Linked DNA regions of Homo sapiens: regions 2, 3, 4 and 5 are each reported to be linked to region 1. The links are microRNA targets in miRTarBase. Many come from high-throughput screens and were not tested one by one. Region 1 holds a microRNA gene; each other region holds the end of a gene's coding sequence.

What was found. The annotated mature microRNA hsa-miR-4770 reads UGAGAUGACACUGUAGCU and lies in region 1 at 1,970-1,987, opposite strand. An mRNA with a match to its seed (bases 2 to 7 or 8) in the 3' UTR can be bound and repressed. Matches are read on the target gene's strand: a 7mer-m8 pairs with bases 2 to 8, a 7mer-A1 pairs with bases 2 to 7 and ends in A, and an 8mer does both.
Region 2: miRTarBase lists PHAX as a target of hsa-miR-4770. Seed matches in the 3' UTR shown: 7mer-m8 at 1,657-1,663 and 7mer-A1 at 2,655-2,661.
Region 3: the mRNA of ELMOD1 is a reported target of hsa-miR-4770. Seed matches in the 3' UTR shown: 7mer-m8 at 1,103-1,109 and 7mer-A1 at 1,732-1,738.
Region 4: miRTarBase lists GALNT6 as a target of hsa-miR-4770. Seed matches in the 3' UTR shown: 7mer-A1 at 3,303-3,309.
Region 5: the mRNA of RAB22A is a reported target of hsa-miR-4770. Seed matches in the 3' UTR shown: 7mer-m8 at 3,915-3,921 and 7mer-A1 at 2,183-2,189.

Annotation. Positions count from the first base shown.
Region 1 is chrX:6,381,938-6,387,042 of GRCh38, forward strand. It overlaps MIR4770 (microRNA 4770), which reads right to left and starts at 2,026; the gene lies at 1,969-2,026.
Region 2 is chr5:126,623,768-126,628,872 of GRCh38, forward strand. PHAX (phosphorylated adaptor for RNA export) reads left to right here. Exons shown (of 5, transcript NM_032177.4): 5 at 808-3,485. The coding sequence ends at 1,077. It also overlaps the pseudogene RPLP1P7. Among named protein-coding and RNA genes, the nearest start is that of SPMIP10, 5.4 kb to the right of the region's middle. RefSeq lists a silencer at 1,036-1,236.
Region 3 is chr11:107,664,224-107,669,328 of GRCh38, forward strand. It overlaps ELMOD1 (ELMO domain containing 1), which reads left to right. Exons shown (of 12, transcript NM_018712.4): 12 at 802-2,556. The coding sequence ends at 974. Among named protein-coding and RNA genes, the nearest start is that of SLN, 45 kb to the right of the region's middle.
Region 4 is chr12:51,350,084-51,355,188 of GRCh38, forward strand. It overlaps GALNT6 (polypeptide N-acetylgalactosaminyltransferase 6), which reads right to left. Exons shown (of 12, transcript NM_007210.4): 12 at 1,169-4,409. The coding sequence ends at 4,296. Among named protein-coding and RNA genes, the nearest start is that of CELA1, 6.0 kb to the left of the region's middle.
Region 5 is chr20:58,359,043-58,364,147 of GRCh38, reverse strand. It overlaps RAB22A (RAB22A, member RAS oncogene family), which reads right to left. Exons shown (of 7, transcript NM_020673.3): 7 at 1-4,542. The coding sequence ends at 4,445. Among named protein-coding and RNA genes, the nearest start is that of VAPB, 28 kb to the left of the region's middle.

The DNA of each region.
Region 1 (5,105 bases):
CCAAGCTGGAGTGCAGTGGTGCGATCATAACTCACTGCAGCCTTGATCTGAGTCCAAGCGACCCTCCCAGCTCAGCCTCCCAAGCAGCTGGGACTATAGGCGCTTGGCGATTTTTTGTTATTTTTTTGTAGAGATGGGAGTCTCCCTATGTTGCATAGGCTGGTCTCGAACTCCTGGGCTCCAGTGATCCTCCCACCTCAGCCTCCCAAAGTGCTGGGATTACAGGCGTGAGCCACCGCACCCAGCCGACACATTTAAAGAAATGTTTTGGCAACTTATCAAATACCCACAGATTGGATCTAATCATTTAAAAAACACAAACTTGGTTGTAGACTTTCTGTCCTTCTGAGGCCCCATGACTATGTAGTCCCAAACTATTCTCGCCGATCACAAAGGAACATTCTGTTTAGGGCTACTTTTACCTTTGCTTAGACCATCCCTTTATTCAATTAATGTTTGAAACATCATACAGTGGGGGAAACAGCCATGCTATGGAGTGCGCAATGTTTGTTAAAAATTAAACAACCACTCACCCCTCCTTGCCCCAGTGACCTTTTCTTATCTAATCTTTTTCTTGGCACCGGTAAAGAGAACAGCCTTTCTTCACATAATCGCTCCATGGCTTCTCAGCAGAACATAACCAACCGCCTTGCTGAGGTGGCCTAGGGTGACCGGGTCTTCCTATCTTTTGTGCAGAGCTCTTGTCATGCGCAGGAGTTTGGGGAGATGCCCCCCACCCCCCCGCAAAAGGTTTCCTATGGCTTTAAAATAAGAGGTAGTTCAGGAACATTAACTGTTCACTTTACATTTAAGATATGATCTCCTGGAGATGTTGATGTGCCAGCTGGTCTTGTTGAGAGGCAGTTACTGATCTAGCAGGTGTTTATAGATTTTACACCTGTCTTGTTCTTTTTTTTAAAAAGAAACAACCTGCAACTAACTAACTTTATTTCGTATGTTAATGAGACAGATGTGAAAGAACACAAAATCAAAATGCTTCCCAGGATTCACAGCTCTAGTGTTCCTTGGCTTTATGGTTTGGAAGGAAAGCTGATTTATATAGGCAGAGGCTCTCTATATAGGTCCTTACCTCCCCTGTCCTGTTGTTTTGGAATGTGAGCAGAACACACTCAGGTCTACTGTATGAATAGGACACCCTGCGCCCTGAAATTCCATCAGCTTCACAGATCTCTCGTGGATTCTCTCAGAGTGATGACTCCCTCTCCCTTTCTCCAGTGTCTGAACACTACGTGGTAAGGGACTTTCCACGCACAATATTACTCTCAGCAGACAGAAGATGCTTTCCTGGAGAAGAAAGCGGCAGTATCTTCCAGAGGCAATTGGAGTTTTCAAATGTTGGTGGAGTTATGGGGTTGAAGGCTCCAGCTTTACTGGGTAGAGTCTCACGCCTCACAGTGCGCTTGCCCTGGGGCCCACTGGCTGTGTGTGGGTGCTTGTCCTCAAAACTGTAGCAGCCCAGTGCCCCTGGAGAGCCACTTTACCCAGCATCACTATTAGGTGCTCTGCCAGCTCTGTGGCATGGAGAGGAATTGTCTGGTAAGAACGGAATGTTTTCCATTCTCTCCATCAAGAACTCGAAAGGCTGATTGACAGGTGCAAACGCAAATCTGGTCATCTAGGCTGAATTACAAGATGTCTGGTGGAAGTTAAGAGACTTCAGGAGGTATTAAGAGGGATGGAATACCTGGAATTCCTTGGGGGCCAGGAGAGTTGAGCCATCCTCAGAGATGTGTGCATACTGCAAACCTCCTTTAAGCCAGGGCACTGGTATTGTGGGAAGCCCAGTTAGGGATTAGAGGGATTCCAGAATTAAGATCAACAAAGCAGTCTGACACCCTTTGGGGTGCCAGAGATTATCACTTAGATTGAGGACAGGGGAAAGGGGGTACACTCAACTCAATTGCTTCCTATAAAATCTTACAGACATCAATGATCCCAGAGGATGGGGAGCTACAGTGTCATCTCAGATCATTTTCCAAGGGAAGGATAGATGACCCCATAACTCATTATCTCTAAGAGAGAATGAGATTCCACATGCAAGATAGGAATCAAAACCCTTTTCACCACCTTCATTGACTCAGTTATGCAAATGGCCCTAGCTCATAGCCTCTAAGCCCAGAGCAGACAGTGCATCCTGGTTGCTGATTGCATACCTCCTGATGGGTTGTAACTGTGTGCTTTACGGAGGGCTAGTGTAAACATTCTCATTGCAAAGCGTCTTGCATGGATGAGCAGACATAGAGTGGCATTTGCCGGAGCTGAGCACCCCTGACTTCAGAGTTCACGTTTGGCAAAGTGATTTGTTGCACTACTTGGCAATTGAAGCATCCCGAATAGCTTTGTTTTATGGGGTGGGGGGCGGGGGCGAGGGGAAGAGAGTGGAGCTTTCTGTCTCCCTACTAATCAGGAGGGTCCTTGTTTGGGCTTTAGGCCCCTTCCCTTGTTTTCTGGGCAGAGGAATTGCCCCTAGGAATCCTCTGCAGGCCCTGCCAGTTTCAGAGCTCCCTCATTTTCATCTCTCCACTTCAATGAGCTCATTCACTAAGGCTTTCCCACAGCCCAGGATCTGACTTGGGTGGGCCTGCTTGGGTTTTGTGTGCCTCTGTGCCAGGAAGAGAACAGGCACAGGGCTCTGCTTGGCTATTGCCGGCATTCCTGGGCTAGTGCGTCACGGGGTCTCATGGTGACAGCATTCCACTGGAAACACGGAGTCCCGGAACCCAATTTTGAAAGGAATCCTCTCTAAAAATCTTTCAGGAGGGAGAAAACAGAGATTTCAGAGAGTTAACAGTGCTCCTCAAAACAGCGTTTGTCAAGGAAATTAGTAGCGACTTGTATGACACCCTCTTTCTCCTGTGATTTCACTTTCCTAAATGTTGATTGCTCCGGGGTGTGGGGCTTTTTTCTTCTATACCCAAAGCCACCTAGTAGAAGGGTTAAGTGCATAGACTTTTTCCAGGCGATCTCTGTGTTCATAAAGAGAAGTGGGGAAAGGGCTCTAGTGTTTCAAATGTAAAGTAACCATTGTTAGGAAAATGACTTATTCTTTCTTTCATTCATTTATACAAATGTAAGTTCTGGCTATGCTTAGCTACTCAAGGGAAATCAGAGGCAACTGGGTCCTCTAGGGATGTTTAGCAATATCTGGACACGTTTTTTATTTGTCCTCGCTGGGAGGTTGTTCCTGGCATCTAGCAGGCAGAGGCCCAGCGATACTACAGGGCACATGCCAGCTTCCCATCATAAGAAATATCTCCTTCCAAATGTCAATAGTGGTGTTACCAGAAAGGGGTCTCTATCCAGACCCCAAGAGAGGGTTCTTGGATCTCGCACAAAAAAGAATTTGAGGTGAGTCCATAGAGTAAAGTGAAAGCAAGTTGATTAAGAAAGTTAAAAAAAAAAAAAAAAAGAATGGTTACTCCACTGAGCTGCTCCACCGAGGATACTTATTATTACTCCTTCATTATATGCCAAACAAGGGGTGGACCATTCATGAGATTTCCAGGAAAGGGGTGGGCTGTTCCTGGAGCTGAGGGTTCCTCCCTTTCTCAGACCATGTAGTGTAACTTCTGGATGTTGCCATGGCATTTGTAAACTGTCATGGCGCTGGCGGGAGTGTCTTTTAGCATGCTAATACATTATAATTAGCATATAATGAGCAGTGAGGATGACCAGAGGTCACTTTTGTTGCCATCTTGGTTTTGGTGAGTTTTGGCCGGCTTGTTTACTGCAACCAGTTTTGTCAGCAAGGTCTTTATGACTTGTATCTTCTGCCGTCCTCCTATCTCATCCTGTGACTAAGAATGCCTAACCTTCTGGGAATGCAGCCCAGCAGATCTCAGCCTTACTTTCCCCAGCCCCTATTCAAGATAGTGGAGTTGCTCTGGTTCAAACGCCTCTGACAGTGGGATGGTTGAGAAACTTGGGGGTAGACCAAGGGCAAGGCAGCAATCTCAGCCTGTGGAAAACATTTTAGTAGATGCCATTGTAATGTCTGAAGTCATTCAATTATAATGTCAAACTCACTGCAAAACATGCATTATCTAAATATCTCTTATAGTTAGCTTTCTTTCTCTCTCTCTATTTTGCTCTCTCTAATTCTACATTTTAAAATCATATATGTACTGACCAATACGATGTTTGGCTGATCATTGGAAAGGCAATTGGAGAAACTTAGCAGCCCTGTTGAAATCCTCGACATATGCCATCTCCATGCAAATTCAGTACAAGGCACAATAGTAAAGTGTGGCTATGATATCATCAACTTTGAGGGGCCTCATTTCCCCCCCTAAATCCCTAGTCTCAAAGCCTGACTCCACTTTCTTCTGCCAGCCAAGAAGCTTGTCAAAGCCTGAGGGCATCATTGCTCTTTCCCCATTTCTAGCAGATGGCCGTGTTGTGAGACATTTAATCCACTGACTGAATCAGTTACAGTAATACCAGTGGCTTCTGAAGATCAGCCTCAAATAACAGTAGCTCAATGAACATAAATGGCATCAGAAAAACACAAGTAACTGAAGAAATTACAGGGGTTTATGTCCGCTCTTTCTTCGTTCAGAGAATGTTATTCTGTGGGCATTACTGAAAAGGGAGCTTTTGTTAATGGCTGATCTTAGAAACCAGACTTCTTCTACATTGTGATTCTACTAACTCCAACATGAGACATCTAAGAACAAGTTGGGGATTTTTTCCATTGCAGCCAGCAAGGAACAGAAAAGAGCGTGAAGGTTTGCATGTCATAAGTAGCACACAGCACACAACCGCCCCACCCAACCCCACTGGTGAGAACTGGGCTCCACAAAGACCTCTGGCACATGGGAAGCTTGGAAGTGCATGTAGCCTTGTGTGCCTGGGATGAAGAAGACATGGGTTTGCTGAGCCAGCATCTGATCTGCAAGGTGCTTCATCATTTCTTCACCATGTGACCTCTGCAAGTGACTTAACCTGTCCGGACCTCAGAATGCTCTTCCACATAATGAGACCTGCATGAGAGTAACTGTCAGGTCACATCTGGCTCCGGATCTCATAATTCTTTCTGTCTTCACTTTCATCCAGGCCCTTTACAACCAAGCACCTTCACTTTC
Region 2 (5,105 bases), not on the chromosome of region 1:
TTATAAACAAGAAGGGATTGGGATTTGTATTCTTTAAGAATATAACAGGGACTGGCTTGGCTTGAGCTTTTTGGAATCCCTGCCCAGGAGATAATAGGGTCCCAGAAGTGTGTCCTGCCTACACTAGCTTCTTTTTTAAACCTTTGAACCGTCTCTGTTTTAGTACAGGTTGACAATCCCTAATCTGAAAATCCAAAATGCTCCAAAACTTTTTGACTTTTTGTTTTGGTTTGGTTTTGGGTTTTTTTTTTTTTTTTTTGAGACACAGTCTCGCTCTGCTGCCCAGGCTGGAGTGCAGTGGCACAGTCTCGGCTCACTGCAACCTCTGTCTCCTGGGTTCAAATGATCCTCCTGCCTCAGCCTCCCTAGTAGCTGAGACTACAGGTGTGTGCCACCACAGCCGGCTACTTTTTGTATTTTTAGGAGAGACAGGGTTTCACCATGTTGGCCAGGCTGGTCTGCAACTCCTGACCTCAAGTGAACCACCCACCTCCGCCTCCCAAAGTGCTGGGATTACAGGCATGAGTCACCATGCCCAGCCTTCATTTAGGAAATTTTTAACTGTAGAGATGATACATTAAGGTAGAATAAGCATGGGCCCTAAACCTAACACTAGGCTGGGTTTAAATCAGTTTCAATCTTGCAATGAGTACTTACTTAATATCTTGAACTCCATCTTAATAATGAGCCTAATAATACTTGTATTTTTTGTAAGAAATGGAGATAATGATTTTAAAGGGACAGTCATGGAATAAACCTTTAATAACGTGGTAGTTCTTGTTTACTAACTTTGTTCCTTTATTACAGGACATTTTCTACATTGAAAACCAAAAGGAATATGAAAATAAAAAAGCTGCTAGGAAGAGGAGAACACAAGTGTTGGGGAAAAAGATGAAACAAGCTATTAAAAGTCTAAATTTTCAAGAAGATGATGATACATCACGAGAAACTTTTGCAAGTGACACGAATGAGGCCTTGGCCTCTCTTGATGAGTCACAGGAAGGACATGCAGAAGCCAAGTTGGAGGCAGAGGAAGCCATTGAAGTTGATCATTCTCATGATTTGGACATCTTTTAAGTACATTTTCAACAGTTTGAGGACTAAGCCTTTCTAAAATAACATTGTAATAAACCATTTTTACTGAGATTGCAACGTTTTGCACTGATAAACATGAGAATCTGGAGGAAAGACAATTGTTTTCTTGTTTAAAATATGTGTGGAAAGGAATGCAATTGATAGAACATTTAAAGATATATCTGACAAAATACTTAAGAGTATATAGCACAGGATTTAATTTCTCAATCTGTTGCATGTGCTAATTATGAGTATTACTAGTTGATAATCAGTTTTGTCTAGGTCATAACATACCATTTGTAAGTTTGTTTGCTTTTTCAGGTTTATCTTTGCAGTGAATTATGCTTTGCTTTAAAACATTCCGCTAAAATCATAATGGGACATATAAATTATTAAGCTGTTAGAAATGCATTCAAATTTGTTTTTTCTGTGTTCTAAGAACTCAGGCAATTTTAAGGATAAAAACTAACATTGGCCAGGCACGGTGGCTCACGCCTGTAATCCCAACACTTTAGGAGACCAAGGCGGGCAGATCACTTGAGGTCAGAAGTTTGAGACCAGCCAGGCCAACATGGTGAAACTTCATCTCTACTAAAAATACAAAAACTAGCCAGGTGTGGTTCTCCATGCCTATAATCCCGGCTACTCGGGAGGCTGAGGCAGGAGAATCACCTGAACCCGGGAGGCAAAGGTTGCAGTGAGCTGAGATCGTACCACTGTACTCCAGCCTGGGCGACAGAGCAAGACTCTGTCTCAAAAAAAAAAAAAAATACAATTAAGAGGTGTATACTGATGATTCTTCCCACTCATTTGTTTGTCCAGAAGTAAATAAATGTCGGAAGTTTTCCAAGTAACTATTTGTTTTTTGGGGGGTTTTTTAGTTAGAGTCTTGATCTGTCACCCAGGCTGGAGTACAGTGGCAGGATCTCAGCTTACTGCAGCTTCCATCTCCCAGGTTCAAGCGATCATGTGCCTAAGCCTCCTGAGTAGCTGGGATCACAGGTGTGTACCACCACGCCCAGCTGATTTTTGTATTTTTAGTAAAGACTTTCGCCATGTTGTCCAGGCTGGTCTCGAACTCCTGGCCTAATGATCTGCCCACCTCTGCCTCCCAAAGTGCTGGGATCACAGGCATGAGCCACCGAACCCAGCCTTATTCTGCTTAAATTTAACGTGTTTTTTGACTTCTTAATTAACTTGGTCATATACTAAATGTGATCTCCTGTGGATTACCACATGCATTAAAAAATTTTTCAAGCTGGGCCTAGTGGCGCACACCTGCAATCCCAACACTTTGGGAGGCCAAGAGAGGAAGATTGCTTGAGCCCAGGAGTTTGAGACCAATCTAGGCAATGTAGTGAGACCCTGTCTCTAATTTAAAAAAGAAAAAGAAAAAAACATTCCCAGTGGCAGCCTGCCTAAGACTGTCTTACCTTATGTTAAGGAAGTCAGGTATTTAAAATGTTACATATGCCGGCGCAGTGGCTCATGTGTGTAATCCCAGCACTCTGGGAGGCTGAGACAGGTAGATCATTTGAGGTCAGGAGTTCAAAACCAACCTGGTCTACATGGTGAAACCCCATCTCAACTAAAAATACAAAAAATACAAAAAATTAGCCGGGCGCGGTGGCTCACACCTGTAATCCCAGCACTTTGGGAGGTGGAGGCGGGTGGATCACAAGGTCAAGAGATCGAGACCATCCTGGCCAACATGGTGAAACCCTGTCTCTATTAAAAATACAAAAATTAGCTGGGCGTGGTGGCGCATGCCTGTAGTCCCAACTACTAGGGAGGCTGAGGCAGGAGAATCACTTGAACCCAGGAGGTGGAGGTTGCAGTGAGCCGAGATCACGCCACTGCACTCCAGCCTGGCGACAGAGCGAGACTCCCTCTCAAAAAAAAAAAAAAAAATACAAAAAATTAGCCGGGCATTGTGGTGCATGCCTGTAATCTCAGCTATTTGGGAGGCCGAGGCAGGAGAATCACTTGAACCCAGGAGGCAGAGGTTGCAGTGAGTCGAGATCGTGCCACTGCACTCCAGCCTGGGTGACAGAGCAAGACTTTGTCTCAAAAATAATAATAGTAAAATGTTACATGTGCATGAAGTTTTAAATTACTCATTTTTATTAATGAAGAAAATAAGGTAGTTTAGACATTCCAAGAGTTAACTATAGTTTACAAAAATATATTAAGCAAAAATATGCTTGATATATTAAGCAGAAATGTTGTATATTAAGCAAAAATGTAAAATTCAGCAATTATAAACTGTTCCTTACAGACAGTGTACTTGAAGTCTTTTGGTAGTTCTGAGAATGTGGTCATTGAAGTTGGATCTAAGAGGAAAGTGGTTATCGGTTGCTTTTTATTTATAAAGGATGCAAAAATAAAATTAGATTTTTGGCAGTCCTTAATGAGCTTCAAGTGATTATATTTTTAAATCTTGAATGTTTTTTCATAAAAATGCTATAGCCAAGAAAAATATTTTTAAAAGGTAATTGGATATTGACCCTAAGACAATTTATGGGAGGTGATTTTAGAAATAGTACATTAAGAAAGATAATTATTCTGAATACTTAAATGCCACATATTAATGTAAATATTGCCAATTTTTCTAGCAAAAGTTATGCCTTTTAAAGGGCGTTGATGCCTGAAGCTACTTTATCTTCATCAAGATTGTTTCTTCCCCACACCTTCCTGGTTTTTTAGCAATAGTTGTTTTTTTTTTTCTTTTTCTTTTTTTTTAAGACGGAGTTTTCACTTTTGTTGCCTAGGCTGGAATGCAATGGCACCATCTCAGCTCACTGCAACCTCCGCCTCCCGAGTTCAAGCGATTCTCCTGCTTCAGCCTCCCAAGTGGCTGGGATTACAAGCACACGCCACCACACCCAGCTAATTTTTTTGTATTTTTAGTAGAGACAGGGTTTCACCATGTTGGCCAGGCTGGTCTCAAACTCCTGACCTCAGGTGATCCACCTGCCTCAGCCTCCCAAAGTGTTGGGATTACAGGCATGAGCTACCACGCCCAGCCAATAGTTGTTTCTTTAACATTTGGAAACCACTCAGATTTCTGGCTTGTGTTGCATCCTACTGCCATACAGAAAGCAGTGCTTCAATTTTTAAGGTTATTTCTTTTTTTCAAAGTTTAGGTTTTTATTGAATATGCTGTAAAAGAGGTTTAGTCAAAAAGACCAAAGCCCATGTCCTCATCAGATTCCTCGGATTCTTCTTTCTTTGCTTCCACTTTCTTCTCAACTGAAGCAGCAGCAGTGGAGGGGGTAGGATCTCCAGCTGCTGCAAGTCCACCAGCCCTTACATTGCAGATGGGGTTCCCGATGCTGACATTGGCTAGGGCCTTTGCAAACACGCCAGGCCAGAAAGGTTCAACATTTACACCAGCTGCTTTAATGAGGGCATTGATTTTATCATTATGCAGAATGAGGGCCGAGTAGATGTAGGCGAGCTCGGAGAGGGAGGCCATGGCACGGGTGTGTGTGGGGCTGGCGCTGCTGGATGAGGTGCTAATCGCCGGATGAAGTGAGGCTCTCACCCCAATGTGGCCTTAGCTTCCTTGGAATGACCAAGCACCTTGGCAGCAGCTGAGGAAAGGGCAGTTTTTAAGGTTCTTTAAAAATTTATCGGCCCGGCATGGTGGCTCATACCTGTAATTCTAACACTGGGAGGCCGAGGCAGGCGGATTGCCTGAGCTCAGGAGTTCGAGACCAGCCTGGGCAACACGGTGAAACCCCGTCTATACTAAAATACAAAAAATCAGCTGGGCATGGCAGTGTGTGCCTGTGGTCCCAGCTACTTGAGAGCCTGAGGCAGGAGAATTGCTTGAACCCGGGAGACGGAGGTTGCAGTGAACGAAGATCATGCAACTGCACTCCAGACTGGGCACAGAGCTAGACTCCATCTCCAAAAATATAATAAAAAATTATCTAAGATGACTCTGAACCTTTCTGGCTATCCAAATCAAGATGTGCAAACTGTTCTTAGGTATGTATTCTTTTAGTTTATGCTCTCATCAAACC
Region 3 (5,105 bases), not on the chromosome of region 1:
TAGTTTACTACCTACAAGTATCTAGTATTAAAAAAAAAACACTATGCATATTTCAATACTAAATGTGGTAGATAAAAATAATTAAACAAATGTGGTAGTGGGAGGGGGCATAATGGGGAACAAAGCACAATGAATAGGTTCTTATATCAAATACTTAACATTTATTCCCCAAATTGTTTCAATCCAGATCACTCGTGGATAGCATTTTTGAGACACCAAAGGATTTGAATATGAAATTATTGCTTCAGAGCAAGGAAGTCTTATTAACAATTTCATGTGGTTTAACGACCAGTCTGTGTTGTTCAGGGTTGATTTACAATTTTTATTGTCTCATAATAGAGTGTCAGAATGCATTTGTTTGATTTGTCGGGGTAATTTAAAACTTTAGTTACATCAAATATCAAGAGAATAAAGTCCGAGTGGAGTGATTTTGAAAAGTTGGACCGTCACATTAATTTAATTAGGAGGAGAAGGATGAAGTAGTCACTGTCAGCCTTTCAGAAAATGTTCCCGATGCGATTCATACTCAAGAGATGGCAGAACTGATTTGTCTTCCTGCTTGGGAAGAGTGAGAATGATTCCAGGGCCAATTGCAAAAAGCTTGCAGATTGGTAGGCTTCAACTGCACTGATTTTAAAGAATAATCTTAAACAGTGGTATTTTCTAGATTTTGAGGTCTTCTTTGAGCTCCACGGTTGCTGTGGCTTGGTTCAGCATCTTCCTCAGCATTCAGAATGATTTTGAATGTGATTAAGGATTTTTTTTTCTCCTGCATTCTTATCATTGTATTGTCTCCAACAGGCTATTTGATGCATGAATTTCATAAGTTTTGGATCGAAGAGGACCCCATGGACATAATGGAATTTAATCGTGTGAGGGAGAAATTCCGCAAGAGGATCATCAAACAGCTGCAGAACCCAGACATGGCGCTGTGCCCACATTTTGCTGCCTCGGAAGGTTTAATCAACATGTAGTTGCCCACGCCGGTTTTAATGGATACCCTGGAACACTGCCTCATTGTCTTGTTAGATCTCTGCTTAGGTCGCAGCTCACGCATTGAATGCACACAGTGATTGTATGCATGCCTTTTGGTACAGTGTTTTCATCTCTTGGTCATAATTCCGAGATCCCCAGAGACCACTGTTTCTGGAGTATCTGTCATCCAGTGACTGCTCATATTGTGGCATTATGCAGTGTTACATCTTGCCTTGATACCCAGGTATGGAGAGAGTTTTCTATTTTTTTAGACTTTTTTTCCTCTCCCTCATAATTCAGCATTAAAGAATTGTATTTCTCTAGCTGTATTTTGTATGTAAGAGGTTTAGCTGAATCTCATTCTGTGAAAGCCTTTTAATTTATTGAAATGTTTCATGACTACTGCTGCTAGCTCTTCAAGCCAGGTTCATGCTTGGACCTCATTCTGATAAAGTATAAGACTTTAAAATAATACAAAACAGGGCCGGGCGCAGTGGCTCACACCTGTAATCCCAGCACTTTGGGGAGCTGAGGCGGGCGGATCACGAGGTCAAGAGATCGAGACCATCCTGGCCAACATGGTGAAACCCCGTCTCTACTAAAAATAACAAAAATTAGCTGGGCGTGGTGGTGGGTGCCTGTAATCCCAGCTACTCGGGAGGCTGAGGCAGGAGAATCGCTTGAACCCGGGAGGTGGAGGTTACAGTGAGCCGAGATCATACCACTGCACTCCAGCCTGGCGACAGAGCAAGACTCCATCTCAAAAATAAATAAATAAATAAATAAATAAATAAATAAATAAATAAATAAATAAATAAAATAGTACAGACAGACACATGATAAGCCAAACTGTTCCTGCAAACATAGCTATGCTTCATGAGGCTTACAAGAAGTAACTTTAGGTAGGAGCTGTTTTTGTTTGAAGTACTGCAAAATTATATTGTAACTTCCCCTCACCCCAGTTGCAATTGTGTCATAGTCATCTGTATATCAAACTATTTTATTCCCATAACTTCATTGGCTTGGATGCCTAAGTGTATGATGCTTGAAGCCTCAGAAAAGAAATAAGCATATTTCAAAAGCTGCAAAAGGTTTTTCACTGCCTGCCTCTTGCGGAACTGGGTTACACCCTGGCACTGTTCTGATCCAAGCATATTTGCTTGGGGAACTAAGTGCTGACTAGTTTGTTTTCTATGTCAAGGGGCAATATTAAAAAACAATTTGCAAGAAAATGTGTTTCAAGAGAGCAACCTAAGCTAAGTCACTCTGCGATATTTCTTGAAAATAACGACCTTGTCTTGTATCAGTGGAAGAAGTAAGTTGCTTAGAAAGGGAAAAGTCAAATTGTTCCAGAACTGCTAAAAATCATTTTAAAAACCATGATTTAGTTTGGAATTATGATTGTAGTCTGTTGAATAGTATTTACCATGGCATTTCATACCCATGGTATTTTATACCTTCTGACTATCAATTTTAGTATTATTAGATGTTTGTGTAACCACTTGCTTATTTAAATGAATTTTGAGTACTGCCTAATTGTCAGTTATATGAATAAATTACATGTCATTCTACTGTAACGTATATTGGATTTCATATTAATATTTTTGTGCTCGTACAGCTTCTGAATATGCAAATATGTGAGTGAATGGAATGTCAAAGACAGACAACCTGGAGCTGACTATAAATCACACCATCATTCAGAGTCAGCAGGTTCACAACTTCCTAGGAAACCTGGCTTGGCTGTTGCTAGATAAAGCAGAAACATTAACTACCCATTGTTTTCTTGGCCTTTCTCTCCCTTCTGCGTTTGTATTATCCTTTCCTTCTGCGTTTGTATTATCCTTTCCCTTTCAGCCATGTACCAGGTGGCAGCATTTTGCATTGCCTTTCTTATGGTCCTGTGTCCCTTCTTAGAATGCGGAAGGGAAAGAGTTGATTAGCACATGGTGGATACCATGAGTAATGACAAGAATGTATATTCCTCTCTCAAGTAGGGGAGAACTTGTCAACCTAGTTCCTCAGGCCTGCCTGAGGAGCCCTGAATTTCCACCGTAGCTGCAGCTGCTGTAGATGAAGGCATTATTCCACATGCAGTCCAGCCTTTGCAGCCACATGTGCTCATTGTCTCTTTTTATCCATTGTGGTCCCATGTCACTGTCACGGCTTGACAGCATGTGGCACTTACACCAGCTTGCGTCTCTTCTGTTCAGATAGAGATAGTTGACGCCAACAAAGCTAAGAGTTTCCCCTCTCAGCTCCTAGGATGCTTTCTTTCTATTGTATTTGAACATGGCTGCACAATCTTAGGATGAACAAGCTGTGACGGCTCCTTTGAGCTCTGAGTATTATTAGATTTCTCATTCACACCACTTTGTGGAAGATGCATTCCACCCAGTCACACAAAGTGAGGTGAGAAAAAGAAGAGGAGAGGTTTCAAAAGCATCAACAACATGTGGAGTGTGTGTGTGTGTGTGTGTGTGTGTTTCCCTTGAATATTTTTAGCTTATACTTTTCCATTGAATAAGGGTTGACCACATAAAATGTCAATTGTGCGGCAAGCCTCTTCCAAGTCTTCCAAAGCACTACTTGCTATGATAAAAACACATTCCTGTTTGCACTACAGAAAGAAAACCTTCTGAAGCACTGTTTCTGAAACTTGACTCTGACCTTCCTTCTCACGGTTCTTGTTATTGTACTGTGCTGAAAAACTTTTGCCTGGTAACCCACCATCTTTTCCATATTTGAAAAGAGGCTTAAATATATGCCAATCCCAAAAGACAGGGTGACCTTACAATATATCTTCCAAAACAGAACACTGTTGAGAGAGAAAGGGGATGTTGTTAATGGTTTCTTTAGAACAACAGAGTAAACTGGGACAGTTTAAGAAAACTGAGATGTTAGGTGGCCAAGAGAGACCAAGAGACAGACATAAGGATTGTCCACCCACAACTTAATTAGGCAAATATAGCCCAATTTCTTTACTTTCAAGCCTCTGGCAGGAGAAGTACATCATACAGATATAGACATTTTGATATCCAGGATACTACCCAAAATCTTAGAGACCCATCACAAGCATGGGCTTGGTTTGAGCTGAGAAATTCAGCTGCATAGATGGGGCCTAAGTTGGCAATAGGCAATCAAACTCCATGGCAACAAATTATCTTGATCCGTAAACATATGGTGCCAGATCCAAATTGAAGGGGAGTGAGGAGGGGACCAGAGTTGGTGGAATATGAGGATAGGAGATGGCAGATGATGGAGAGAAGAGGAAGGGGGCAGAGAAAAAGGAAAATATCAGCTAGACCCATAGCCACTAAGCCTTCTGACACAGACTCTATTAAAGCAATGCCTCTAACTCTTCAGGGAGCTCAACAACGGTAGCTGCTCTAATCTAGAGAAAAAAATGACAGAAAAGCAGAACCAAGTATAACATGAAGTCCTAGAAGATGAAAGAGATTCTGGTACAGATTCCATTTCAAGAGCTCACATTTACCAGGTTTTTATGCCATGTGCCAGGACGGTGCTAGTCCTTACCTTGCATTATTTCATTTCCTTAACAACACACAGGATCAGATGGGTTGTTGTTTGCCTGCGCACTTGTTTTTCTAGACAAACAGGCTTAGATAATTTAATACATTGCCAAAGGTCTCAAGAGAGAGAAGTATTAGGTTGGTGCACAAGTAATTGCGGTTTTGCCATTGAAAGTAATGGCAAAAACTGCAGTTGCTTTTGCACCAGCCTATAAATGGCATAGCTAGACTTGAACCCAAGGCCTTAACCCCAGACATTCAATCATTATGCTGCTGTCTACCTAACTGGAATCCTCTACTATCCCAGGGGACTGGTGAATTATAAACACACACAAATGCGTACACACACTCCACCCCCAAGTGATAACAGAAGTGTTCATAAATACTTCTCTCTCAGATGTCTGTAGGGTGAATTCAAATGCTGCCATACTGTCCCTCAGGACTGCCCACAGTTTTGGTCAGGTTTTTTTCCCCTTGATACTCAAAGAACAATTCTAGGACCTTAAGCTCTTTCTCCTGATCCCTGTCTCCCCCAGGAGAGGAAGGCTGCAAATCTCCTTTCTGCTCCCTTGCAGGGGAAACCTCAGCAAGGTGGGTTTG
Region 4 (5,105 bases), not on the chromosome of region 1:
AGTAAAGACGGGGTTTCGATATGTTGGCCAGGCTGGCACAGTATTACTTTGGTAATTAAAAATAAGAATAAATTCTGGGACATCTAGCTATTTGTGGCAATGGCCCCAGTACTCTTCATGTGGGAAACAGATCCCCAGAGAGGCCTAGCTCTTTAATGCTAGAGTGAGAGACTCCTAGAGCCGGGAGATAGTAGCACAGGGCTAGCAGCAGGGTTTTAAGAGGTAGGGGCCTTAGGTTAGCTGAGAGTGGTCAGAGGGGTGGGTTTTAAGGAAGAATACGGGTGTTGTTAGGGCCAGGCCAGGCTTGACTAAGGAAAATGCCATGAAGAAGCTAGTTTCTTGTTTGTTTGTTTGTTTTTTTGAGACAGAGTCTCACTCGGTCACCCAGGCTGAAACACAATCTCAGCTCACTGCAACCTCTGCCTCCCAGGCTCAAGCGATTCTTGTGCCTCAGCCTCCCGAGTAGCTGGGATTACAGACGCCTGCCACCACGTCTGGCTAACTTTTGTATTTTTAGTACAGACTGGGTTTCGCCATGTTGGCCAGGCTGGTCTTGAACTCCTGACCTCAAGTGATCTGCCCGCCTCGGCTTCTGAAAGTGCTGGGATTACAGTTGTCAGACATTGGTGCCTGGCCAAAGCTAGTTTCTTGAGCCTTCCCACCACTCCCATCAGTGCCTTCTCCCTCTTCTCCACCACCTCCCTTCCCTAGTCCTCCCCTCATCCCTGAACCCAGACCTCCTCTCTAGACACAGCCTGTGTCTCCCTCCTGCTGCATCTCCCACTCCCTGCGAGTAGCTCTTGGCTGACTGTGCCTGGGAAGTGCTATGCTATTTGGGGGCAGGTGGAACCTTCTTGACACAGCTGGGCACCTTGGTTGGGCTACATCATATGATTAGGCTGGGGAGCTGTTGGGTGATACCATAGACAGTATGAGGGATACTGGGATCCACGTTTGGATATTTAATGCAACCAAGAATAAGGCTAGGGTTAGGCTCCACGACTCCCTGTGGCTTACCGGACCTACCAAAGCCTCTCTCAACTGGGCCCCAACCCACTCTTGTACGGGGCTGAGTTACCCAGTAGGCACAGCAGGTGCAGTGCCCAGGGCCCATAGAAATGTTTTAGCTTCTTTTAAAACCAGAAGAAATAAAGTAAATCCAATCAGCCTGGATTACATTCATCTTTATACCAACATAGTCATAACATTAATTTTTTTTTGAATGGAGCAAGAGCTCCGTGAAGGCTAAAGTGCCTAGGGCCCCTGAAATTCATGATGTAACTCTGATCTTCCAGCTTCTACACCAGTCACTCCCTCACCCCAATGTCCTCTGGGTTTCTCAGACCCACTGGGGCCACATGTCCTCTGTGGCTTTGCTCCTGCCAGGCTGCTGCCTGTGTAACAACTCTGCTTATTGAGCCCTTCCCATCTGAGGACTCATCTTCCGAGGTCTTAGGTCAAACATTGCCATCTTTGTGAGGCCTTATCTGATTCCCTAAGTGGAAGGAATTGCTCCTTCTAACTCATCCAGCACCTCTTGGAGCATCTCCAGGCTTGCTATGATTTGCTTACATTTAGCGTGTGAGTTCCACGGGGACAGGACCTCGTTTGACGTCTCACGTCTCCACGTGCTTGACACAATACATAAGCTAGATTTAGGGCCAGAGAATGTTTGGGGACATGAGACAGTGGCTGTAACAGAACTTTTCAGATGTGTGTGGTTCTTCATAGCCCAAATCAACTGATTCAGCTAAGGGACAACACAGGTAAGAGAACACAACGCGAGTTTCCTTGACCAATGCCAGAAAACCTTTATTTCCACTGAGACCTCTCATCCAATTCTCTTCTTTCCGGGAACTTTTTCCCTTCCCTACTCCAGGTCGTACCCTGGCCACTCCTTTCCTTTTGGCTGGCCAATGTCTCCTCTGTAGGCTCCAGAAGGCTCTCAGGGATGTAGGCGGCCTCCCGCAGGGTTGAGTTGCAATGGGAACAAAGACAGCTGTGGTCCCATAGCACCCTCATCTGGTGACATCCTGCTACTGACAGTCAAAAGAAGCCTTCCCAGATGAAATTTTAGTCCTCTGCGCAGCCATGCTCTTCTTCCAGCAAAAGAGCCATGTGCAGTCGGGTCTGCTCCCCATGGGGGCTTTGATGTGGGCCCAGCAGTGGATCAGCCTTCCAGACACGCTCAACTCTGCACACTCTTCCTGCCGCCTCAGGCTTTCCAGGACCCTCCCGAGCCTTATCAGAGTCCTTACCCTCAGGGCTACTGATACCTTGCTGGGTGACCTTGGACAGATTCACTTACCTGGACTCAGTTTCATAATATGAAAATGATAGGGTTGGGCTACGTGATTTTCACGTTGTGCTTCCAGATTGTTAGAAGTTAGGGGCTGGAAGGCATTACCTGTCCCTCTCTCAATTTCACTCATGCTACTTTGTTTTTTTAATCTACCTTTTATATGGGGCTTAGAAAAAAGGGTTCTGGGACAAACCTGAGAATCACTGGCTCCAGGAGCTTTCTTTTAACACTAACATCCCAGGATTCCTAAGTGTGCTCTCTCCACAATGGCTACCTGGCCCTGTTTTTCCTTTCTTTTTTTTGGAGATGGAGTTTTGCTCTTGTTGCCTAGGCTGGAGTTCAGTGGCGCGATCTTGGCTCACTGCAACTTCCGCCTCCCAGATTTAAGCAATTCTCCTGCCTCAGCCTCTTGAGTAGCTGGGATTACAGGTGTGCGCCACCATGCCTGGCTAATTTTTATATTTTTAGTAGAGATGGGGTTTTACCATGTTGGCCAGGCTGGTCTCGAATTCCTGACCTCAGGTTATCCACCCGGCTCGGCCTCCCAGAGTGTTGAGATTACAGGCATGAGCCACCGTGCCCGGCCCTGGCTGTTTTCCTATGCTCTGTGGAGGCCAGCCAGCTAGAAATGATTAGAATGGAGGAAGAGGGAATGAGAAGGCTGGTGGCGAGTGGTCTAGCGTTCTTGTGGTGCAGCGGAAGGAGCCCTGGCTCAGCATTGAAGAACGAGCCTCAGTCTTGGCTCCAGCCATCTGCTAGCTATGGGACTACAGACAAGCCCCTTTACCTGTGTCTCAGTTTTCGTATCTGTAAAATAGGCACAGTGGTTTCTGTCCTGTCTTTCTCACAGGATTACTGTACAGATAAAGTAAGATAAAGGACACCTGTCAAGGAGATATCTGTAAACAGTTCTACAGACTTCAGGTAATAATAGCAAGGGAGGATCTCTTAGACCTCTGATCTGTCTGTTAGAATATACTTTTTTTTTTTTTTTTTTTCCTGAGATGGAGTTTCGCTCTTGTTGCTCAGGCTGGGGTGCAATGGTGCTGTCTTGGCTCACTGCAACCTCTGCCTCCTGGGTTCGAGTGATTCTCCTGCCTCAGCCTCCCAAGTAGCTGGGACTGCAGGTGCGTGCCATCATGCCCAGCTAATTTTTGTACTTTTAGTAGAGATGGAGTTTCACCATGTAGTCCAGGCTGGTTTCAAACTTCTGACCTCAGGTGATCCACCTGCCTTGGCCTCCCAAAGTGCTAGGATTACAGGTGTGAGCCACTGTGCCCAGCCAGAATATATCATTTCACTGGACTCTGCAGGTGCTTTGGATGATCAAGGAATAGGACATGGCTGTAGAAGTACTTTTCTTCTTCTTTTTTGTTTTTTTTTGAGACAGAGTCTTACCTGTTGCCCAGGCTGGAGTGCAGTGACACAATCAAGGCTCACTGTAGCTTCAACCTCCGGGGAACAAGCAATCCTCCCACCTCAGCCTTCTGAGTAGCTGCGACTACAGGCATAAGCCACCATACCCAGCTTTTTTTTTTTGCCGGGGGGAGGGTGGGCGTAGAGATGGGATCCTCACTATGTTGCTCAGGCCGGTCTTGAACTCCTGGGCTCAAGCCATTCTCCCACATTGTCTTCCCAAAGTGCTAGGATTTCAGGCATGAGCCACTGTGCCCAGCCTGAAGTACTTTTCTTGAACTCAGCATTGCTGCCCTGAACCCTCCCCCAGCTGCCTTCCCTACTTTGGGAGCCTCTATTTCTAGAACAGGAAAACGCTAGGCTAAATATATGTCCTAATGGTCTCTTCCATCGGTGTGAAGGAAAGAAAATGGGCCCAATGTTGTTGCAAGGATTAGGAAGGTCCTGCCTTGCCACCCAGTGGGTTTAGAAATCCATCTTTACGGCCTCCAGAGAAGCTGGTGATCAGGTTCCCAGACATCAGCAATCCTGTTTCCTGAGGAGCTTGTGGGGGCTCTCTCTGGGGATGATCTGGGTCCTAGACAAAGAGCCACAACTGATGGGGGTCACTGGGATTGCAGGGGGCCATGGCTGGCTTTTTGTCCTGGGATGTCAGGCAGGTACCAGATCCTGAGTTCCTGATGAGCTGATCCTAAAAGATGACAAAGCAAAAGGTCAGTCTGGGCCACAGACCTCTTAACGGTGCTACCAGGGACAATGCGATGGGGTGCAATTGACAAAAGCCAAGGGAACCCCACAAGGCACAAAGAGGACACTTCCCCATTCCTTTCCTGCCCTCTCATGAGACACATTCCTGAGTTCCCACCTCTATCTGGTGCCAAATCCCCATCCCTAGCTTCAGACTGAGTGGATGAAATGGTGAAAGACAAGACCATGGGCTGAGAGAAAAATGCTTTCAGGGCCTCCCGCACCCCCAGATGGCCAGGCTCAAAGACCCAGGGCCACTGCTCCACCTCCAATTTTCTGCCTTGGATTATGTTTAGACTGCTCCCTTCCCTGCAGCCTCCAGGTTAGGTTCCTCTTTCCTAAGCTGGGGTGGAGTAGGGAGGCTCACTTGGGGTGCTGGCTTGAGCTCAGCATGGTGGCGGTTACATGGCATATCCTGGAGCAGTGTGGTGTAATGGAAAGAGCCCGTGCTTTCAAGTCAGACCCATCTGGGGCTAAATCCCAGGCCTGCCATTTACTAGTGATGGGTCTTGGGCCAGTCACAGACATGCTGGGCTTCCTCCGGCTCCAGCTCATCTGTAGAAACAGTGACTATTCCTGCTTGGAAAGAGCCTCTGAAAGATTAACTGGACCCAGGCATGTGAGTGCCTAGCTTTGAGCC
Region 5 (5,105 bases), not on the chromosome of region 1:
TCTCTTAGACTGAAAAAATGGAGGCTCCTGAAAAATGTAATATCTTCCTCATATTTTTTAGACTTTCATTTGCACATAAAACAGGACAAATGCCCCAGAATTCCATTAAAGTTTCTTGCAAATCGGATAATCAAACTGCCTGGATTTATATTATTAGAAGTCAAGACAAGCAACTCCGCTGTCAAGAGAAATTCGCAGAGGTTGTTTCTTTAAGTTCTAGGCTAAATTCCACCCCCAACCCTTTTTTCTAAAACTATAAAATATGATGTTTATCTCATGGATAAATTTGTTTCTTAGACTATTTTTTTTTAAATCACAGCACAGCAGGAGTTAAAACAAATATCCTAAACATTACCTTGAATCATTTAAAAATCCTTTTGATAAACCAAGCTAACTAGAGGCAGGTATACAGTTAACAGCTTGACCCCTGAAGGTACATTCCATTTCTTCCTTTAAAAAATATTAACTGTTAAAGAGGTAGAAAAACTCTTGAAGTTGAACGGTAAAACTGTCCCTTTAAAGCAAATGTAAATAATGACTTTCACAGGTTCACTATCTAGTTTGTCACTGAACTTTCATTACAGAGTTAGAAGGAACATTTATAGCCCAGTGAGGTTAGAGAGGAGAGCCAGCCTGAGTTTGTCATTTCCCAAATGTTCTAGAGCAAGTACCAAGTATAGCTCAGTTAAGGAATTTCCAATAATTTTTCCCTGGAAGAAAAGGGTTTTCACAATACTTACACAGGTTCCTGCAGAGACACGTGGATGTTTAGGGGGGCTCATCCGTTACTTAAGTAACATACTGTGCACCTATATCTTATACTCTTAAGGGCCCATAAATCACATCCTTGATGTATTCTGAAAGAATAAGTGAAAGTACCAAAAAGAATTCTGTAACTCACTCTTAGAATCTAAAAGATGCCTGTAACCATGAGCAAATGCCTTTCTGAGCTGGAGGCTGACATGCCAATTAGTGCAGTGTCGTCGGAATCTAAACTGCTTATTTTAACACAATGCCCTAAAAATACTGACATTTTGGTTTGACAGTTACAGGAAAGTTAGCTAAAGGATATTTTCATTACTATATTTCCCAGAGTTTAATTTAGAAGGCTTCCTAGACCAATTTTCCTCCTTGAGAACAGAAAAGAAATACATACAAGACGTAAAGAGAAGTTCTGAAATTAAAGTTGGTTTCCTTTCCCTTTAGATATTTAAGAATAAGAGGAATTGACAACTTCAAGAAGGACACCAGCCCACATAGAGGAGGCGCTCAAGCCTCTCACACAAAAGTCCCGATCCTTCCAGACATCCAGAAAGTGCGTACACAATGGGAAACAGGGACTTCAAACAACATCATAAACGGGTCACAAGAAAATAAGTTACTTTGAAAAGAACTAAATCTTTCACCTGCTTCGTGTAAAACTTATTCTGACCACGGCTGACAGGCAGGTGATGGACACTTAATCATAATCTTACTTTATGTTCTTTTAATCACCAGATGATGGTTAATTAGTTATCATAGAATCAGAAAAACACTTGTGTGAGAGTTCTGGAGACCATTGGTTTCTAGGATTGGACGCCTGCAAAGAGCTTATTTCAATTTCTCCGAAAAGAATCAACATACAGTAGCAGCTAATTAATAATTTTTCTCTTCTGTTCAGTCCTGAGAGTTTTAAAAAAATGGCCCTGTATCGTAAGAAAACCAAACATGTTTATAGATGGGAGTATGTCTCAATTCCTTTGAAATATAGCCTCTTCTCCATAAGAAATTATTATAAAGAAAATATGAAATGTGTATTAGATCATTGCTTAGTCAGCTTAATAATCCAAAATGTGTTCAAAATGAAACACTGCTTCTGACTTTAGTATTCATCTTTGCATTTTAGAAGCAAATAAAATAAGTGAAAATATTTTTTCCCTGCTTTCACTGAGTATGGATTATGGATCTGAGAGAGCAATTTTTTGTTGTTGTTGCTAAGCATTAGAAGGATATTACACGAGAAACAGTGCCGAGTCAAGTTCTTAGACAGACTGATGAAAATGAGGGAAGAGGCCCGAGAAATGCATAAGTACAAGCTTCATATCACTCATTCTGTTAATAAAACATGTGGCTATAATAAAACAGAATCACACCCTACATATGGGAGGGAGGGTGAGAAATCATGAAATCAGCAAAGGGCTGATGAGATGGACCCACATTGGGCTCGGTACAGTAAAACATCACAGTAAGATCAGACACATCCAGATGCCTCACCAGTTAAGATGAGCTCAGAAGACCTTGCCTTTCCCCATGCACCGAGACACCATGCAATCACCAACAGCTACTGGTGGGTGTGGTGGAAAAAATGTGAAGGTCATAGATTTGCACCATCTTTTGGTAAAATAAGACAGAAAGGGTCGCACATGCTTTGCCTCTTTGGTAATGAGTCAAGCAACCTCTGTTTTTATTTTGTTGTCATGGAGATAGAGGCCCAGCAGTGGGAATTCTAGGGACACACCAGGGTGGTGCCCGGATGCCTGGGATCCATCTGGATGTATACAGAAGAAAGTCAAACTACTTTAGGTGTAAAGCGCCTGGCTCTGGGAATCACATGGCTTCTCTAGGAGCTTGCTAATTTAGCACCGGGGAGGAAGCAAAATCCTAGGGGCATGGAGCATCCACATGTCTTTTAAACAAAACGAAGTTAGAATTTTTACTAATGACATTCTTTTTATATGATTTCAGAAGATAAAAAAAATTCCAAATGCTTAAGATATACAACAGGGAAAAGGGAATTGTTTTTTATTTAATCTGAATTATAATTTTCCCATTAAAATCTATCCATATTAAGTGGGGGGCACAAAATAATACCAATTATTTTTTAAAGTTTCAGCTGTTCAGTTTCAGGATAGCTCTGAAAATACAATTTAGTTTGAAATTCAAGCTGTTTCATTTCCTATTAAATCTTGTAAATTTCCTTCCCCTACAATACTCAGGTTGGAAGGGTGCCAAATTAGACCAGGAACAAATTTTCACCAACTTCACTTCAATGCTTTATTTTTAGATGATATTAAAAACCTCATTAGGCTCCCTGAGGGAAAAGAGTGTTAACCACTAACAGAGGCAGGGGAAAAATAAAGGAAACAGAAAGATAAGCTAAATTGTTAACAAGGAAAGCTCCTCAGTTGGTCTGAGGATGCTGTACAAGCTAAAAGAAACTTATTACCAAGACCAGGTAAATGACTTGAGGTTGGAGCTTAATCTTTTACCCTCAGGCTAGTAAGGACTAGTCAGGTTTGTCAAAGTGGCATATGTCTTTATTATGATTTCCAGATGGGATCTGGTGGGAGGCGGGTGGGTAGAAGGGAAGGCAGAGAAACCTTTAAAGATTGTAAGCTAAGTGCTCTATACCTTTATACAATACCAATGTGCTTGAGTCTCCCGTTAAGAGGCTGAAAACTGGGCAGGCATACGCAAGACTGGGTGCGAGATTCAATGGAATGTCAAATGAAACTTAGAATTTATTAATGTATTTACATAATTTATAATCTTTAAGCAATGGCCCCATAAATATAGACTACAACTTTACATATGCTAAGCAATAGATACTTGCTTTTCCCCACCAAAATACTTGGGTTAAAAAAAAATTGACAGCATTTATACCACCTTCTTCACTTCCACTCTTCTTCCTTTTTAAACCATTGCTAGTCATTTTAGAACATATGAAATTCAGTTTATTCCGGGCAGCTTCTCTACCATCACCATCTTGATCATGAGAGCTTATTTAAAAAGGTGCCAATAACGTGTTTGGTGGCACACACATGACAAGGTCAGAAGCAAACCCAGGATGAGCTAGGCATCTGCTGCTATCATTGTTAATTTACTGTACGTATCCTAGGCTAACATGTTCAATGAAAAGTGCTTTAGAGATGGCAGAGATGAAATCATTTCCATCAGTCCTATAAATAACCCATTTTAGCTTCAGACAATAATTGTCCTCCCTACACTTAAACTATCCTACTATATGTTAAATGATACAACTCCCTCTAACAGTGGTAACAGAAACCAAGGAAATTATAATCTCCACAAGGTCTGTTTCTTTTCCCTTAAGAACCACAAAAGTGCTAATTTTCCCTTTACAAATGTTACATAAAATCTTGATTACAAAACTACTCAACAACTTAATCCTACCATCCATACAATTATATGTTCCTTTTCAGCAAGGTCAAAAGCCAACGATGTAGTCCCTTTGTACACTAGAGATTCTTTACATAATAGAAGTTCACAGACTGAAATATCATTGCTGCAGTCTTTGGAGAACAGAACTGGTCCATTTCTGTGAATCCTTTTTGCACGGAGAAGACTCAAGACTGGCTAGGTGAAAACTGGTGGCAGGGACCCCAGCCCTCCTGTTAACTTTCAGGACCACCTACTTCATCATCAAGTCTGAGAGGCTGAGGTTCGGTCAGCAGCAGCTCCGCTTTGGCTCTGAAGGCTGTCTTCGGAGTTTGAAGCCCTTACCGCCAGATGGCAGGTTGGCGTCAGTGGATGGAATTCTTCGACCTAAACCAAGATGAGAAAAGGGAAGGGAGTGAGCTTTAACTTTCTCAGACACAACAATTTTGCAGATGCAATTTGACAGGTTTCACTGAAGTAAAAAAAAAAAAAAAAAAGTTTAATAAACTTTTTATACTCGAATAATTTTAGATTTATAGAAAAGCTGCAAAGATGATAGAGCTCCTGTGTACCTCCCACCCAGTTTCCCCCAGTGCTGACATATTACCATGGGACATTTGTCAAAATGAAGAGTTCAACATTGCCACATCACTATTAACTCCAGACTTTTTTCAGATAGCATCAGTTTTTCTACATGTCCTGCTTCTGCCCCAGGATCCAAACAAGGATATCACACAGCACTTAGTAAACGTTTTTTAATTAAAAAAAGCCACACATCAAAAACATTTTGTTTTGAGTAGGTAATACATAGGATTTGTTTTTTAAAAAGTTCAGTCAGAACATGGTTGTCCCTCTGTCTCATGACAAGGCCACCACTGTGGCCCATTTCTCGTGTAGCCTTCCAGAGACATATATGCACAAACACTCAGGCACACCTATATCCCTACCCA